Linked DNA regions of Homo sapiens. The protein of the gene in region 2 binds, or shares a complex with, the protein of the main gene of each other region. Each region holds a gene or a part of one and is shown on either strand. Other genes may lie near its edges.

Evidence for each region.
Region 1: WRAP53 (region 2) and TERT share a complex: the UniProt entries of both Homo sapiens proteins name them as parts of the telomerase holoenzyme complex.

Annotation. Positions count from the first base shown.
Region 1 is NC_000005.10:1,263,550-1,271,941, forward strand, and holds part of TERT (telomerase reverse transcriptase), read right to left. Parts: intron 7,656-8,392; coding exon 7,570-7,655; intron 5,085-7,569; coding exon 4,971-5,084; intron 2,987-4,970; coding exon 2,915-2,986; intron 1,044-2,914; coding exon 855-1,043; intron 1-854. UniProt on the Homo sapiens protein: Telomerase is a ribonucleoprotein enzyme essential for the replication of chromosome termini in most eukaryotes. Active in progenitor and cancer cells. Inactive, or very low activity, in normal somatic cells.
Region 2 is NC_000017.11:7,691,026-7,699,417, reverse strand, and holds part of WRAP53 (telomerase Cajal body protein 1), read right to left. Parts: intron 1-8,392. UniProt on the Homo sapiens protein: RNA chaperone that plays a key role in telomere maintenance and RNA localization to Cajal bodies. Specifically recognizes and binds the Cajal body box (CAB box) present in both small Cajal body RNAs (scaRNAs) and telomerase RNA template component (TERC).

The DNA.
Region 1 (8,392 bases), on a different chromosome or scaffold from region 2:
TGTGCCACCAGGCCAGGCTAATTTTTGTATTTTTTAAGTAGAAATGGAATTTCACTATGTTGGTTAGGTTGGCCTCAAACTCCTGGCCTCAAGTGATCCACCCACCTCGGCCTCCCAAAGTGCTGGGATTATAGGTGTGAGCCACCTTGCCCTGCCTGGAATGTTGATACTTTTTATTCATAAAAGAAACAGCACAGATTTCTGCATCTGTGTCCATCTTCAATTCATTTGTGTCTGAGCCTGAGACGGGGCCTTGAGCTCTCGGGCTCTGGGGAAACAAGACCCCAGAATTTTGTAGAGACCCCCCCCACACCATGGCCCTGTCCCCTGATGGGTCACACGTGATCATGAACTCATGGCATCCTGTAGACTGTGGATGAGCCTTGGAGTGTGGGGCTCACAGCGGAGAGACTCACGCCCAAAAGGGCCCTGAAGTCTCTGGGTTCGGAGAGACTCACGCCCAGCAGGGCCCCAGGGTCTCGGGTTCAGAGGGACTCATGCCCAGCAGGGCCCCTGTGTTTCGGGTTTGGAGAGACTCACGCCCAGCAGGGCCCGGGCGTCTTGGGTTCGGATCCAGACTGCTTTCTGAAGACACCTCAGTGCACCCAGGTCTGGTGCACCATTTCCTTTTACCAAAATAGCACAGAAAACTGCTCCCGTTGTGAGCACCCTCACTCCCACAGAAAGATGCATTTCTGCTCAGCCCCAGATGGGACGAGGGGCACCCTGTGGCCTCTGACCCTTTGGGATTGGCAGTCGCCTGCCCCACACGGAAGCAGAGGTGGACGCAACGGCCCTGCAGCAGCACCTGCCCCAGCCGGGCACAGGCTCCACTTCCGGCCAGGTGCGCTCACCTGGAGTAGTCGCTCTGCACCTCCAGGGTCCGGGTATCCAGCAGCAGGCCGCACCAGGGGAATAGGCCGTGGGCCGGCATCTGAACAAAAGCCGTGCCACCCAGGGCCTCGTCTTCTACAGGGAAGTTCACCACTGTCTTCCGCAAGTTCACCACGCAGCCATACTCAGGGACACCTCGGACCAGGGTCCTAAGGCAGAGGGGCAATGTCAGCCCCAGGATGCGGGGCCGTCACCCAGGAGGTAACCTGACACCCTTGTTAAATGCTTTGGAAAACCCCAGAGAAGTGGTGATTTGGAGCAGGGTGCTGGGCCTGGCAGGAGCTCTGAGGAGCCTGGACCCAGCCCTGCTCCAGACTTCGGGGTGCTTTCCCTGTCTCCCGGGCAGGACAGGTAGGTGAGCATGCAAGAACCTGGCCTGGACCCGGGACAGCCAGGACTCAGATGGGAGGTGCAGCCCCAGTGGCCTCTGTGATGGTCCATCTCATGTGTCCCCATGGCAACACCACAATCCCGTTATAGACTCATCTGTGGTCCGGGGCAGACTAAAATCTGGACAAGAAATTGCCACCATCCCACCTTCTTTTAAGACGTTTCTCAACGACTTTGCCTGTTTTCTCCTAGATGCCCTGAAGGCATCTGCTGTGCTTTAGACAAAGGGGAGGGTTCTGAGTTCCTGCTCAGGCGCGGGACCTGGCTGGGCTGTGAGCTGGGCAACACCAGTCGTCAGCTTCACGTCAAGGAGGTTCCCTCGCCGAGTCATGAGCCTCGCTCACCCAGCTCAGGGAGCCCCCCTGTGCCCGGTAGCCTCTGCTCTGGCCTGGGCATCCCCTTCCCTTCCTGCGGCCTCTGCTGTGGCCCCGGGCGTCCCCCTGCCCTTCCTGTGGCCTGGCCCTGGGACCTCGGCCAGCTGCGCAGCTCCCCTGGTGCATTCCCAGCTCCCTGTGGCCACCCCTTCCTGTTACATGGCTGCCGACTCATCAGAGACAGAGTTCTGCCCCCGGTGGGACCCCAACATACACTCTGAGCCACCTCCCTGGCCAGCACCCTCAGGAACTTGCCACACAGAAGCAGCGTTCCCCGTCTGCTCTGTCCCCTCAGCAGCCTCAGGACTCCTGAGCCCTCAGTTGCTTGGGACCTGGGCTCCCCCCGAGTGAATCTTAGTGGATTTAAATGTGCACAGCCTGCTGTGCTCCGGGCTGCGGCACAAGGAACGCCAGGCATACCCCCAGCCCAGGGCGGCCCTGGAGGGTGGACCTGGAGGGTGGACTTGGAGGGCGGGTCCAAATGGGTTTTCACAAACACAGCCCAGCAAAGCACCTGAAACCACCCCTGGCGGCCACATTTTCTGAGGGTTCCCTTTACAGCTTTCAAGGTTTCTCGTCCCTCGTCAAATCGCACTTTAAAACAAGCCCACCGGCTCTGTGGGGCGCCCTTGAGGGGGACCACATTGGACAATCCCCTGTGCTGAGGCCAGGTCCCCTGTGCCTGATTTTAGTTTGATTCACAAAAATCAACTCTGAAACCCACTCCTAGCCATCTCCGTGGTTCAAGACAGCAGCACTCAGCAAATCCAAATTCTCCCACCGATCCCAAACAACCCCACGCAGGAACGTGACCGCAGCGAACGCTGTGGGCCAGCTCACTCAGCAGCTCCTGCTCTCCGCAGGCTCAGGTGCACCCTGGGGAGGAGGCTGCCGCCTCGGCCCTGCAGGCCCTGTGCACAGCTCCTGGGGGTCTCACTGGGGCCCCAGGAGCCGCCACTCTTGACTTTCCAAAGAGCAGCAGGAGCCAGGTCACCGCCTGCACTCACCACGTGTGTAACCTGGGTGCGTCTCTGCAGGACCAGGGCCTGCACGGTACCCACTCCCTCCCGAAGGTGCCCCTGCGCCCCCAGGCCTGGGTGCACGGCCAAGCGCCTCTGCTCTTGCGGATCCAGCACCGGCAGAGAGAGAGGACTTGGCAGAGACAACGCTGCGGTGCCAGGGGCAGGACACGGGGGGCTCAACTGCAAAGCCCACAGGCTGTGGAGGTCCCCACAGACACACGGCACGGGCCTCACCTGAGGAAGGTTTTCGCGTGGGTGAGGTGAGGTGTCACCAACAAGAAATCATCCACCAAACGCAGGAGCAGCCTAAAATAAGGGAAAATACACAGCAAGGTTAACTTTACACTTTTTACGTAGTATCTGTCTACGAGGGACTGAATGTCAAACAATTTACACAGCCATAAATAAAGTAACATTCTCCAAAGCGGTTAAATGAAAAACTTAAATTTCTTTCCAACAGACGAGCTCTCTACAGTTAACTGCTACAGCAATTCCTCATTCATTATAAGTACTCAGTGTTTACCATCAGCTTGTGCAATTCTGTGCCAGCTGAAGACGAACGAAGGCCATCAGGCGCGGCCCCACTTCTCAGACTCTTAGGGAAAAATAACTGAAGACGGTAAGAAAGCTGGGGCTGGGAACCTCGCCCCCTCTGAGCCACGTGGTGCCCTTTACCAGCATGGCAGCTGTGGTCCTCAGCATGATCCGAGACCCAGATCCTATCCACAGGAAGCTGGGCATGGTGCACTGTGTGACCCTCAGGCCCAAGCCCAGCGCCCCATGACCATGGGCCAGAGGTATCCTGTCCCAGAGGGCTGACCAGTGTGCCGCCAGCTCGAGGACACTTTCCTCCAAATCCCAGAGCAAGTTGTGTGTACAAGAAATTTTTGTTTCTGTTACATAAACTTATTTCAATCTAGAACTTGAACCTTAATGAAGAAGAACCTTGATCCACTGTACATGCTATAATTGGAGCTAGAGTTTCAAAAGATGCACAGGAAAAACCCGGAGTCTTCGAGAGAAATGGCTGTGTGGCCTGCAGGCTTCCTGACGCATCCTTCACTAACTGTCTGCTTGTTCAGTGATACTATTTTCATAAAAAAATAACTGCTGTCCACATCCTCTCCAGCACCAGAACACTTTTACACTGTTGGTGGGAGTGTAAACTAGTTCAACCATTGTGGAAGACAGTGTGGTGATTCCTCAAGGATCTAGAACTAGAAATACCATTTGACCCAGCCATCCCATTACTGGGTATATACCCAAAGGATTATAAATCATGCTGCTATAAAGACACATGCACACGTATGTTTATTGCGGCACTATTCACAGTAGCAAAGACTTGCAACCAACCCAAATGTCCATCGATGATAGACTGGATTAAGAAAATGTGGCACATATACACCACGGAATACTATGCAGTCATAAAAAAGGATGAGTTCATGTCCTTTGTAGGGACATGGACGAAGCTGGAAACCATCACTCTGAGCAAACTATTGCAAGGAAAGAAAACCAAACACCACATGTTCTCACTCACAGGTGGGAACTGAACAATGAGAACACTTGGACACAGGGTGGGGAACATCACACACCAGGGCCTGTCATGGGATGGGGGGAGTGGGGAGGGATAGCATTAGGAGATATACCTAATGTAAATGATGAGTTAATGGGTGCAGCACACCAACATGGCACATGTATACATATGTAACTAACCTGCACGTCGTGCACATGTACCCTAGAACTTAAAGTATTAAAAAAAAAAAAGTAACTGCTGTCAATAAAAGCCAGCTGAGTTGAACCACATTAGGTTGGCACGATATTTAGGTGTGTGCGTCCTTGGGTGTAGACCCCATGCAAGTGGGATGGGCAATGGGCTGAAGAGGCGCCCAGTCCAGGCCACCTGTCGAGGGCCTGCTGGGAGATGTGGGGCCTCAGGCTGCACCAGCCCCATCTCCCCAAGGACCCTAACGGAACCTGGGTGACGTGACAGAAGCTGGTGTGCTTCCTCGGTGTTGAATTCACATGCTCATCATGCAGGGCAGCGGCCCTCCCGCCTGCTGAGCCCTGAGGCCTCTGGACATGGCCGCTGGACAGAGCCTGCGTGGAGCCCGCAGTCCTCAGGCTGTGCAACCCCTCCCGTGCGGCTTCATACCAAGAAGGGGCTGCAACCTTGTCTGGTTCCTCAAGACAGAGCAGTCATGGTCTCCAGAGCACCAGGAATATTAACACTGAATGCATCAAAAGCAAATCAACCCCCACCCAAGCCCCCCTGGGGAAGAGGAGGCCTCACCCGTCCCGCCGAATCCCCGCAAACAGCTTGTTCTCCATGTCGCCGTAGCACAGGCTGCAGAGCAGCGTGGAGAGGATGGAGCCCTGCGGGATCCCCTGGCACTGGACGTAGGACCTGGGGCGGGAAGACACAGGTGAGAGACGGGCAGGGCATGTGCTGGACATGCGTACACTCAAACCGAGCCACACACAGACACAGAACCTCATACACACAAACGACACGTCTACCATTCAGCCGGCAAACACCTCAGAAACATACCAGATGAGACCTCTGAACAAACAATCCCTGCTCCCCACTCTCACCATGCACTGGGGCGGCTGAAACAGATCCAGCCACAGGTGTGACCACATCCTTGCTCTGAATCATCAAGGTTTTCTTTCATTAAGGTTTCTTAAATCTTAGAGTTTATTCACAGAACCAGACACTTGACCCGGAATGAATGCTTAACCGGACTCCTTTTTTTTTTTTCAAGGAATTTGTCCACGGTGAAAGACTCATGACCCTACATGTAGCCGCTGCGCGCCAACGGATACAACCTTGCCCCTAGTTTCAGCATGACCAACGAGAAGCAGAAACTCTCCAAACAAGGATGCCAAGGGTGCGTTTTCAGACAAACAGTGAGAGCAGAATAGCCCCGTGGAACCTAAAGGTGCACACAGAAGGCATGGCTGCCACGCGACCCTCAGCCATCCCCAGAGCCCACAGGACGCCACTCCTGTTGCTAAGAGACGCTTGCAGCCTACTGCAAAAACAAGACCTGTTATTTTCGGGAAGCGCTATAGGTGGTCACCTTAAAAAGAGGCTTTCCGGCTGGGCGTGATGGCTCACACCTGTAATCCCAGCACTTTGGGAGGCCGAGGTGGGTGGATCACCTGAGGTCAGGAGTTCGAGACCAGCCTGGCCAACATGGCAAAAACCCCTCTCTACTAAAAATACAAAAATTAGCCAGGCGCAGGGGGTGGGTGCCTGTAATCTCAGCTGCTCGGGAGGCTGAGGCAGGAGAAATGCTGGAACCCGGGAGGCGGAGGTTGCAGTGAGTTGAGATCGCGCCACTGCACTCAAGCCCAGGCAGACAACAGTGACGTTCCGTCTCAAAAAAAAAAAAAGAAAGAAAAGAAAAGAGGCTTTCCTTGCTGGTGCAGATATCACAGTGATGGGCAAGAGGACTGCACTTTTTGCACAGAAGCACACGCACCAACTCTAGGAGTCCGGCCAGCCCAGCGAGTCAACGCAAGCAGATACGCCCCTGTGAGCACATGGGATGGGAAACTCTCTCTGTTCTTAGTTTTTGGGGCAACAGGTTTTGAAGACGTTTTTATTCAGAGGCCAAACTGGACCACGATGGGGACTAGAGCTTCGGGCCTGTCCGTGTCCTAGGGACAGGACAGACACAGTCACCTCCTGTCTGTCAGGGCATGAGGACGCAGTCATCACCTCACATTCCCCAAAGCCCTGCCACACGTGGACGGTACGTGACTTGATCCATCTTAATAAAATTCACGACCACGAAGGAGGCCCGTGGTGGCTTCTCTGGGGAGGTGACTTTGTCAGCGAATTCTGTGGGCCTGGGGGCCGCTTACACACATGTGCACACGTGTCCCTCGGCCAAAATTCACTCTGCTGCCATGTGCAATTTGTGTTTTTCCAGAACGTGTGTACTACTTAATATTTCTAATTATACTTTAATAAATATTATAATTGCTGATACCATTAGTGATTACTTATAATGCAATAATTAATAGTTATATTTTTAAATAAAAGCTTCCGAAGCTGTGCACAGTCCTTTATCCGCTGGAGACGATCCCAGAGAGAGGCCTCCACGTTCCACCTGACTGCGGATGACCTTGCTGATGACCTTGAGTGTGCACGAATTTCCTCCGTGCTACCACTCTCCCCAGGCACACACAGGGTCGCAGGCAGATGCCTGCCGGGAGGTGTGTGGTTTTACTTAAAATCCAGAGGACGTGATGTGGCACCAGGCACTGTGGCTCTACCACCGTGAGTGTGGCTCACCCAGTGGCTGTGTGACGGCAGCTCTCCCAGGCCGCCTGCCCCATGGCCACCACAGGCCCCCCGAGAGGAGCAAACTACACGGTCAACCCCGCACTTTCCAGATGGGAAATCTAGTCACAGAGAGAAGAGCCCGCGCCCTCGCGGGGGTCACACGACAGGGACAGGAATGAGAATCGGATAAAATCCTTTTGTATCGGGAGAGAGAGATACAAGCGTGTGAGAGCCGGGTGTCCAGCGTCAGTAGTAACTTGGAGCTGACAAGCTGCAGGCTCAAACGCTCGGCGCACACCTGACCCAGACACACCCCCCGCCCCTCGTCCTCCACGCAGGAGCAACTCCACACCCCGCTTGCCATTTCCAGGCCTCGTGTGGCACCTGCTCCGCTCCGGCTGCCGCAAGCCGAGCCATGTTTCCGGGGCCTCGGGAGCCTGCAGCCCAGGAGCCGGAGGGGGCGGGGGCCAGAAAAGGAGACTCTGGTGGCCCCGGGCAGAAGGGCAGTGGGGAAGGGGCAGGAGAGAGGTGAGCAGAAGCCCTGCCAGCCCGCCCAGCCACCCGCAGGGCAATGGCACCTGGCCACCTGACTCACTTGCCCCTGATGCGCACGGCGTGGTGGCACATGAAGCGTAGGAAGACGTCGAAGAGGCCACTGCTGGCCTCATTCAGGGAGGAGCTCTGCGAAAGCAGACGGGAGACACATGGGAGTGAGCCGGTGGGTGCTGAGACAGGCAGGACCACGTGGCCAAGACCCTCCGTCCCTTTTGGGGTCAGTGTTTGTGATGAAGTGCGGGGCTGGGCTGGAATGCAGGGCCATCGTGGGCTGGCCGGGCCGAGTCTCTGCAGACACACATGGGCTTAGGCAGAGTGTGTGACACAGAATGTCTCCTCTGGGCCACCTGTGGGTCCAGCTGGGCTCACACCCACACAGCCCACCGTGGCCCGGATGGCATATGTGATCCAGGAGTTGCTGCCCAGCTGCCGGGCACAGGGTCTGGGTCCCAGCAGCCCAGGCCACCTCCACCCCCACCCTGGGAGCCAAGGAAATTCGCCCAGAGGTCTCTGAGCCTCATGCGGTGGACACGACTGTCCCCTAGAGCCGAGCAAGTGCTAACAGGCATCTGCAAAGAGCCACAGGGCCACGTGGACAGACCACATCTGCAAAGGGCCACAGGGCCACGTGGACAGACCCAGCACTGAGAGGCCCGCTCAGCGGGGCGTGGCTCAAACACGGCCCGTCCTCCTAAGAAGGGGGACACGTTTCCTTTGGCCTCAGACCCAGCACTGAGGGGCCAGCTGGGCAGGACACGGCTCAAACATGGCCTGCCCTCCTAAAGGAGGGGGACACCTTTCCTTTGGCCTCAAGATCAAAACTGGCAGAGAAGACATTTAGCAAATCATGAACAAAGGCACTG
Region 2 (8,392 bases):
GGCAGAGTCTCACTCTGTCACCCAGGCTGAGTGCAGTGGCACGATCTCAGTTCACTGCAACCTCCACCTCCCAGGTTCAAGCAATTCTTGTGTCTCAGCCTCCCGAGTAGCTGGGATTGCAGGAGTTCACCTCCATGCTCAGCTAATTTTTTGTATTTTTAGTATAGACAGGGTTTCGCCACGTTGGCCAGGCTGGTCTCGAACTCTTGGCCTCAAGTGATCTTTCTGCCTCAGCCTCCCAAAGTGCTGGGATTACAGGTGTGAGCCACTGCGCCCAGCCTAGGAGTATATTCATATGGGAAAAAAAACAGTATCTAACGTTGTCTTGCAGGTCTTTAGACTTAATTTTTTCTTTTCTTAGAGACAGGGTCTTACTCTGTTGCCTAGGCTGGAGCACAGTGGCGCAATCATCTCACTGAAACCTCAAACTCCTGGGCTCAAGCAAACAATCCCCTGGCCTCAGCCTCCCTAGTAACTGGGAATATAAGCATAAGCCACCATACCTGGCTTATTTATTTATTTATTTATTTATTTATTTATTTTTGACGGAGTCTCGCTCTGTCGCCCAGGCTGGAATGCAGTGGCACAATCTTGGCTCACTGCAACCTCTGCCTCCCAGACTCAAGCAATTCTCTGCCTCAGCCTCCTGAGTAGCTACGATTACAGGCGCCTGCTATCACGCCCGGCTAATTTTTTTGTATTTTTAGTAGAGACGGGGTTTCACCATCTTGGCCAGGCTGGTCTTGAACTCCTGACCTCGTGATCCACCCACCTCAGTCTCCCAAGTGCTGGGATTACAGGCATGAGACACCACGCCCAGCCTGCCCGGCTAATCTTTAAAATTATTTTTTTGTAGAAACAGGGGTCTGTGTTGCTCACGCTGGTCTAAAACTCCTGGCCTCAAGCAATCCAGCCACCTCAGCCTTTCAATGCACTGGGATTACAAGCATGAGCCACCATGCCCGGCCTAGACTTAACAGTAATGGTATTATATCATATACATCCCTCTGTGATAGCAAGCTTTAACCATGGAAACACATTTTGCTCTAATTCATGCATTTTCACTGGTGTATAGTACTCTACTCATGAATATATTCAAACTGATCTACCCTTCTTCTATTTAGAATCACTGATGTTTTTCTGTTTTTTGGCTAGTGTGCTTTAACATTCTGTACACATGTAGAAGGGTTTCTCTACAGTTTCTGCTGAAGAGTAAAATTACTGGTCTCTACGCTATGCACTTTGCAAACTTTGTAAGATACTATAATGTCAATTTCTTTCCCAAAGCACTTGTCCCAATGTCCTCTCCCACCAGCAGTGTATAAGAGTCTCTATTCTAGCCTGGGCAATATAGCAAGACCCCAGTTTTACAAAAAATTAAAAAATTAGTCAGGCATATTGGCATACTTGTAGTCCCACCTGTTTGGGAGAGTGAGGCAGGAGGACTGCTTGACCCCAGGAGTTTGAGGCTACAGTGTGCCATGTTCGCACCACTGCACTCCAGCCTGGGCAACAGAACAAGATCCTGTCTCCAAAAAAAAAAAAAAGTGTCTATTGTTCTTTATCTTCTTGGTATTGCCAGACTTTTACATTTTTCTCAATTTGAAGGTGGTGAAATGGTATTTCATTACAGCATAAATTTGTATTTCCATCATTACTATAAGAGAGATTAGATATTTCCTCTATGTTTACTGGCCATTTAGTTAGGTACACCTTTTCATAAATTTTGCCCATTTTCTTTTTCTTTTTTTTTCTTTTTGAGACAGAGTCTTTCTCTGTTCCCCAAGCTGGGGTGCAGTGGCACGATCTTGGCTCACTACAACCTCTGCCTCCTGGGTTCAAGCGACTCTCATGCCTCAGCCTCCCAAGGAGCCGGGACCACAGGCATTTGCCACCACGCCCGGCTAATTTTTATACTTTTTAGTAGAGATGGGGTTTCACCATGTTGGCCAGGCTGGTCTCAAACTCCCAGCCTCAAGTGATCTGCCTACCTCGGCCTCCCAAAGTGGGGATTACAGGTGTGAGCCACCATGCCTGACCAGTTGTTGTCTTTTTCTTTTCTTCTCTTTTTTCTTTTTCTTTTCTTTTTTTTTTTTTGGAGGCAGAGTCTCCCTCTGTCCCCAGGCTGGAGTGCAGTGGCACGATCTCGGCTCACTACTACCTCCACCTCCCAGGTTCAAGCAATTCTCCTGCCTCAGCCTCCTGAGTAGCTGGGATTACAGGCGCCTGCCACCACACCCGGCTAATTTTTGTATTTTTAGTAGAGACGGGATTTTGCCATGTTGGTCAGGCTGGTCTTGAACTCCTGACCTCGGGTGATCCACCTGCCTCGGCTTCCCAAAGTGCTGGGATTACAGGCATGAGCCACCATGCCCAGCCGTCTTTTTCTTACTGATTTGTGAGAGATAAATAGTCTGGACACTGTCCTTCGTCAGTTGTCTTCTGGGCCTCAGGCTGATGTCAACCAGCCAGGACTTCAGTGTCCACCTCTATACTCTGAACCCATATATCCAACTGCCTGGTGGACAGTGCCACTTGATCATCCCACAGGTTCCTCAAACTCAATTTGTCCATAATAGGCCCGGCATCCACCACCATCAAACCTGCTGTTCCTCCTGGACTCCACACCAGTGCTCAATCCTGAAATCTGAGCACCAGCCTTGACTGCTACCACTCTTCACTTCCTTTCCACTCCTGGTCCAACCCAATACCAAATCTTGCCAGTTCCTCCTCCTAGTCTTCCATTACCACGTGCTACCCCCGACCCACCTCTCAAGGCTTATCTCTATCTGCTAATTCCCATAAAAATCTCTGAGTCCTGACCGGGCGCAGTGGCTCACGCCAGTAATCCCAGCACTTTGGGAGGCCAAGGCGGGCGGATCACAAGGTCAGGAGATCGAGACCATCCTGGCTAACGTGGTGAAACCCCGTGTCTACTAAAAACACAAAAAATTAGCCAGGCGTGGTGGCGGGCGCCTGTAGTCCCAGCTACTCGGGAGGCTGAGGCAGGAGAATGGCGTGAACCTGGGAGGCGGAGCTTGCAGTGAACCCAGATCGCGCCACTGCACTCCAGCCTGGGCGACAGAGCAAGACTCCATTTCAAAAAAAAAAAAAAAAAAAAAAAAAATCTCTGAGTCCCGCCATTTTGACTCTCAGGTCCCATAAAGTGCCAACTCGCCACACTTTCAACCCACTGGCTTTCACATGTCCTAGGCTCCAAGTCTGGAATATTCTTCCTTCATCTCCCCCAACGACTCCTCCTGGCTGAATCCTAGTCATCCTTCAGGTCTCTTAGATGCTTCTTCCTCTGGGAACGCTTCCCTAACCCCTCCAGCTAAGCAAGGCGCCCCTGTTCCTCTTTCCTATAGCCCCTGGTGCTCCTCACTCCCCTTCCGTCATACCTATCAGAGAAGGAGGGAATCACATCTGCCTCGCTCTCACCACTGCTTCCCCAACACGTGGTGCAGAATAAGCAGAGTCAACAAATACGGTTTTAATGAGCAAAAGGAGGCAGGAGACTGTTTCAGCAACATAAGGCCCAAAATAATAGGACCTTGAATTAAAGTAGAGGCAGTGGGAGGGACAGATGTGGGTGGATTAGGAAGATTAGGCAGACTTGATGGGATTTGGGAAGTAATTGGATGTGAGGGGTTAGGAACAGGGAGATTAAAGATTAAAGGATGAGAGAGACCCTGGCTTTTGGCTTGGATACCTGAGGTCACCAAAATGGCGGGCGAACAGGAGAGCACCGGAAGGCTGTACAGTGCCAACGTCGTCAGCGGGAGAGAGAATCAGCATAAGCCTCAAGGGAAAAGTTTCACAAAGACGAAAGAGCAATTGTGTGGCTACAGCATTTGGGAATGAGGACATTCCCCGTCCCCACCCTGAGAGATAAAGGGTACAGAGGATGCAAAGTGTCTCCTGGAGAGGGCAAGACGAGGAGTAAAGGCTTCCTGCAAGACCCACGGGGCAGGGCAAGTACTCAGGAAAGACGCTGGGGAGCTGGAAATGAGACTTGCAGAAAGTTCTGTGAAAAGGTGGAAAAGAAAGGAGAAAACCCGAGAAACTATATTGGGAAGAAGACTCAGTACACACAAGTATATGGAAATACCCAAATACACCCTTCCCCAATTTTCTGACCTATACAAATTTTATCTATTTAAGGCCGGGTGCAGTGGCTCACGCCTGTAATCCCAGCACTTTGAGAGGCCAAGGCGGGCGGATCACGAGGTCAGGAGATCGAGACCATCCTGGCTAACATGGTGAAACCCCGACTGTACTAAAAATACAAAAAATTAGCCTGGCGTGGTGGCAGTGGGTGCGTGTAGTCCCAGCTACTCGAGAGGCTGAGGCAGGAGAATGGCGTGAACCCGGGAGGCGGAGCTTGCAGTGAGCTGAGATCGCGCCACTGCACTCCAGCCTGGGGGACACAGCAAGACTCCATCTCAAAAAAAAAAAGTTATCTATTTCAAATGCTAAGCTTGTAGACACTAAAAATGAAAATACCTAATGAGAGAGGTTGCGATAGAACTGGTACACTAGCAGGAAAAAAAAAAAAAAAAGCACAAAAAGGTTTTGGTTGTTTGTTTTGAGACAGAGTCTCACTCTGTCGCCCAGGCTAGAGTACAATGGTGCAATCAAAGGTCATGGCAGCCTCAACCTCGCAGGCTCAAGCGATCCTCCCACCTCAGCCTCCCAAGTAGCTGGGACCATAGGCCCAACTTTTTTGATAGAGACAGGATCTGGCTGTGTTACCAAGGCTGGTCTCAAACTCCTGGGCTCAAGCATTCCTCCCACCTTGGTCTCCCAAAGTGCTGGGATTATAGGCATGAGCCACCACACCAGCCACAAAAATCTTTTGAAAACAAACTGACTGGCCAGGAGCAGTGGCTCACGCCTGTAATCCCAGCACTTTAGGAGGCGGAAATGGGTGGATCACTTGAGGTCGGGAGTTTGAGACCAGCCTGGCCAACTTGGCGAAACCCCATCTCTACTAAAAATACAAAAATTAGCCGGGTGCGGTGGTGCGTGCCTGTAATCCCAGCTACTCAGGAAGCTGAGGCAGGAGAATCGCTTGAACCGGGAAACAGAGGTTGCAGTGAGGCAAGATCACACCACTGCTCTCCAGCCTGGGCCACAGAGCGAGACTCTGTCTCAAAAAAAAAAAAAAAAAAAGAAAGAAAAAAAGAAAACAAATTGACTATCTGTATTGCAAGATATATTTTTTAAAATGTTTTAATATTATAATCATTAATATCATAATCACGACCATGCCTGGCTAACTTTGTATCTTTTTTAGTAGAGACGGGGTTTCACCATATTGGCCAGGCTGGTCTCGAACTCCTGACCTTAGGTGATCCACCCGCCTCGGCCTCCCAAAGTGTCGGGATTACAGGCGTGAGCCACCAGGCCTGACCCTGCTCTGCTATTTCTACCATGACAATTTATTCAGCTTCATCAAAAACTTATTTACAGTCCAGTTCCTTACCCACTGTAGATTCTAGTCCACCATGGCATGCACACTCTTGAAGACACTCTCAGGATACCCTTGTCTTTCTCTCCTGGTAAACCTCAACCATACCATCCTCCTATTCTTGGCTTGCACACAACTGATACCAGTGACTACTAGTGTTTACCGAACACTTACTATATGCTAGGTGCTGTTTTAAGTACTTTTTTTTAATTTTATTATTTTTTTTTGAGACTAAGTCTTGCTCTCTTGCCCAGGCTGGAGTGCAGTGGTGCGATCAGCTCACTGCAACCTTCGCCTCCTGGATTCAAGCAATTCTCCTGCCTCAAACCTCCCAAGTAGCTGGGATTACAGGCGCCCGCCACTAAGCCCGGCTAATTTTTGTATTTTTAGTAAAGACAGGGTTTCACTATGTTGGCCAGGTCGGTCTTGAATTCCTGACCTCAGGCGATCCACCTGCCTCGGCCCCCCAAAGTGCTGGGATTATAGGCGTGAGCCACCGCACCCGGCCTTAAGTGCTTTAATTCATTACTGATTATTTTAATTCTCACAACTCTGTGAGGCAGGTGCTATTATAATCATCCCCATTTTACAAACAGAGAAACTATAGTCATTTAACTTGCCAGGAAAGATGCACAGTCACACTAACTGGTCTCATTTCAAATTAATGGCAACAGACCTCTAGCGGGTACCGAGCAAAGAGCAACACAACTGCCACATGCCTTGGTGGGTCTGATTTTTTGAAACTCCGTCTCAAAAAAAAGAAAAAAAAGAAAGAGTGCTGATGGAGGAGGAGAAGGCCCAGCAGAGCCCTGAGTGCCTGAGTGCTCCAGCGCAGGGAGGTGGAGACAGTGACTCATGCTGCTAAGAGATGCAGTGAGGCGAATTTAGAGAATGACCCAAGAGGGGCTGGGCGCGGTGGCTCATGCTTGTAATCCCAGCACTTTGGGAGGCCGAGGCAGGAGGATCACGAGGTCAGGAGATCGAGACCATGGTGAAACCCCGTCTCTACTAAAAATACAAAAAATTAGCCAGGCGTGGTGGCGGGCGCCTGTAGTCCCAGCTACTCGGGAGAGGCTGAGGCAGGAGAATGGCGTGATCCCGGGAGGCAGAGCTTGCAGTGAGCTGAGATGGCGCCACTGCACTCCAGCTGGGTGACAGAGCGAGACTCTGTCTCAAAAAAAAAAAAAAAAAAAAAAAAGGAGAATGACCCAAGAGGACATTAGTGACCTTGACAAGAGCACTTTCAGGAAGCGATGGAGGCAGAACCTGATTAGGATGGGTGGGAGAAAACTATAGCCAATCTTTTTTTTTTTTTTTTTTTTTTGAGACGGAGTCTTACACTGTTGCCTGGACTGGAGTGCAGTGGTGCAATCCTGGCTCACTGCAACCTCCATCTCCTTGGTTCAAGTAATTCTCCTGCCTCAGACTCCAGAGTAGCTGGGATTACAGGCGCCCGCCACCACGCCCAGCTAATTTTTTGTATTTTTAATAGAGATGGGGTTTCATCATGTTGGCCAGGCTGGTCTCGAACTCCTGACCTCAGGTGATCCACCTGCCTCAGCCTCCCAAAGTGCTGGGATTACAGGAGTCAGCCACCGCACCCAGCCCCAACTAATTTTTGTATTTGAGTAGAGACAGGGTTTTACCATGTTGGCCAGGCTGGTCTAAAACTCTTCACCTCAGGTGATCCACCCATCTCAGCCTCCCAAAGTGTTGGGATTACAGGCGTGAGCCACCGTGCCTGGCCCTGGATTTCACTCTTGCCCACCCATAAACCATTCACTCTTCTGTTTTAAAACTCTCTTGGCCGGGCGCAGTGGCTCATGCCTGTAATCCCAGCACTTTGGGAGGCCAAGGTGGGCAGATCACAAGGTCAGGAGTTCGAGACCAGCCTGGCCAATATGATGAACCCCCCATCTCTACTAAAAAAATACAAAAAAATTAGCCGGGTGTGGTGGCACATGCCTGTAATCCCAGCTACTCGGAAGGTTGAGGCAGGAGAATCACTTAAACCTGGGAGGCGGAGGTTGCGGTGAGCTGAGATGGTGCCACTGCACTCCAGCCTGGACAACAGAGCAAGACTCTGTCTCAAACAAACAAACAAAAAAAACCTCTCTCATGGCCTGGCATGGTGGCTCACGCCTGTAATCCTAGCACTTTGGAAGGCTGAGGCAGGTGGATCACCTGAGGTCAGGAGTTTGAGACCAGCCAGGCCAACGTGGCAAAACCTGTCTCTACTAAAAATACAAAAATTAAGCCAGGCGCGGTGGCTCATGCCTATAATCCCAGCACTTTGGGAGGCCGAGACCGGCGGATCAAATGTCAGGAGTACGAGACCATCCTGGCCAATATGGTAAAACCCCGTCTCTATTTAAAAAAATACAAAAATTAGCTGGGCATGGTGGCGGGTGCCTGTAATCCCAGCTACTCGGGAGGCTGAGGCAGGAGAATCGCTTGAATCCAGGAGGCAGAGGTTGCAGTGAGCCGAGATCACGCCATTGCACTCCAGCCTGGGCGACAGAGCAAGACTCGTCTCAAAAAAAAAAAAAAAACACCTCTCTCATGACTTCCCAAATAAACTCCAAATGCCTTACCCATAAGAACCAACACGACGTGGCTGCTCTTCTCTGTCCTCACCCCTCTGTCCCCCTCACTTGCCTCAGTCTGGCTATACCAGCATTCTGGGTTTTTTGTTTTGTGTTTGTTTGTTTGTTTGTTTGTTTGTTTGTTTGTTTTGGGATGGAGTCTCACTCTGTCACCCAGGCTGGAGTGCAGTGACATGATCTTGGCTCACTGCAACCTCCATCTCCTGGGTTCAAATGATTCTTCTGCTTCAGCCTCTCAAGTAGCTGGGATTACAGGCACCCACCATCACACCCAGCTAATTTTTGTATTTTTGTAGAGATGAGGTTTTGCCAT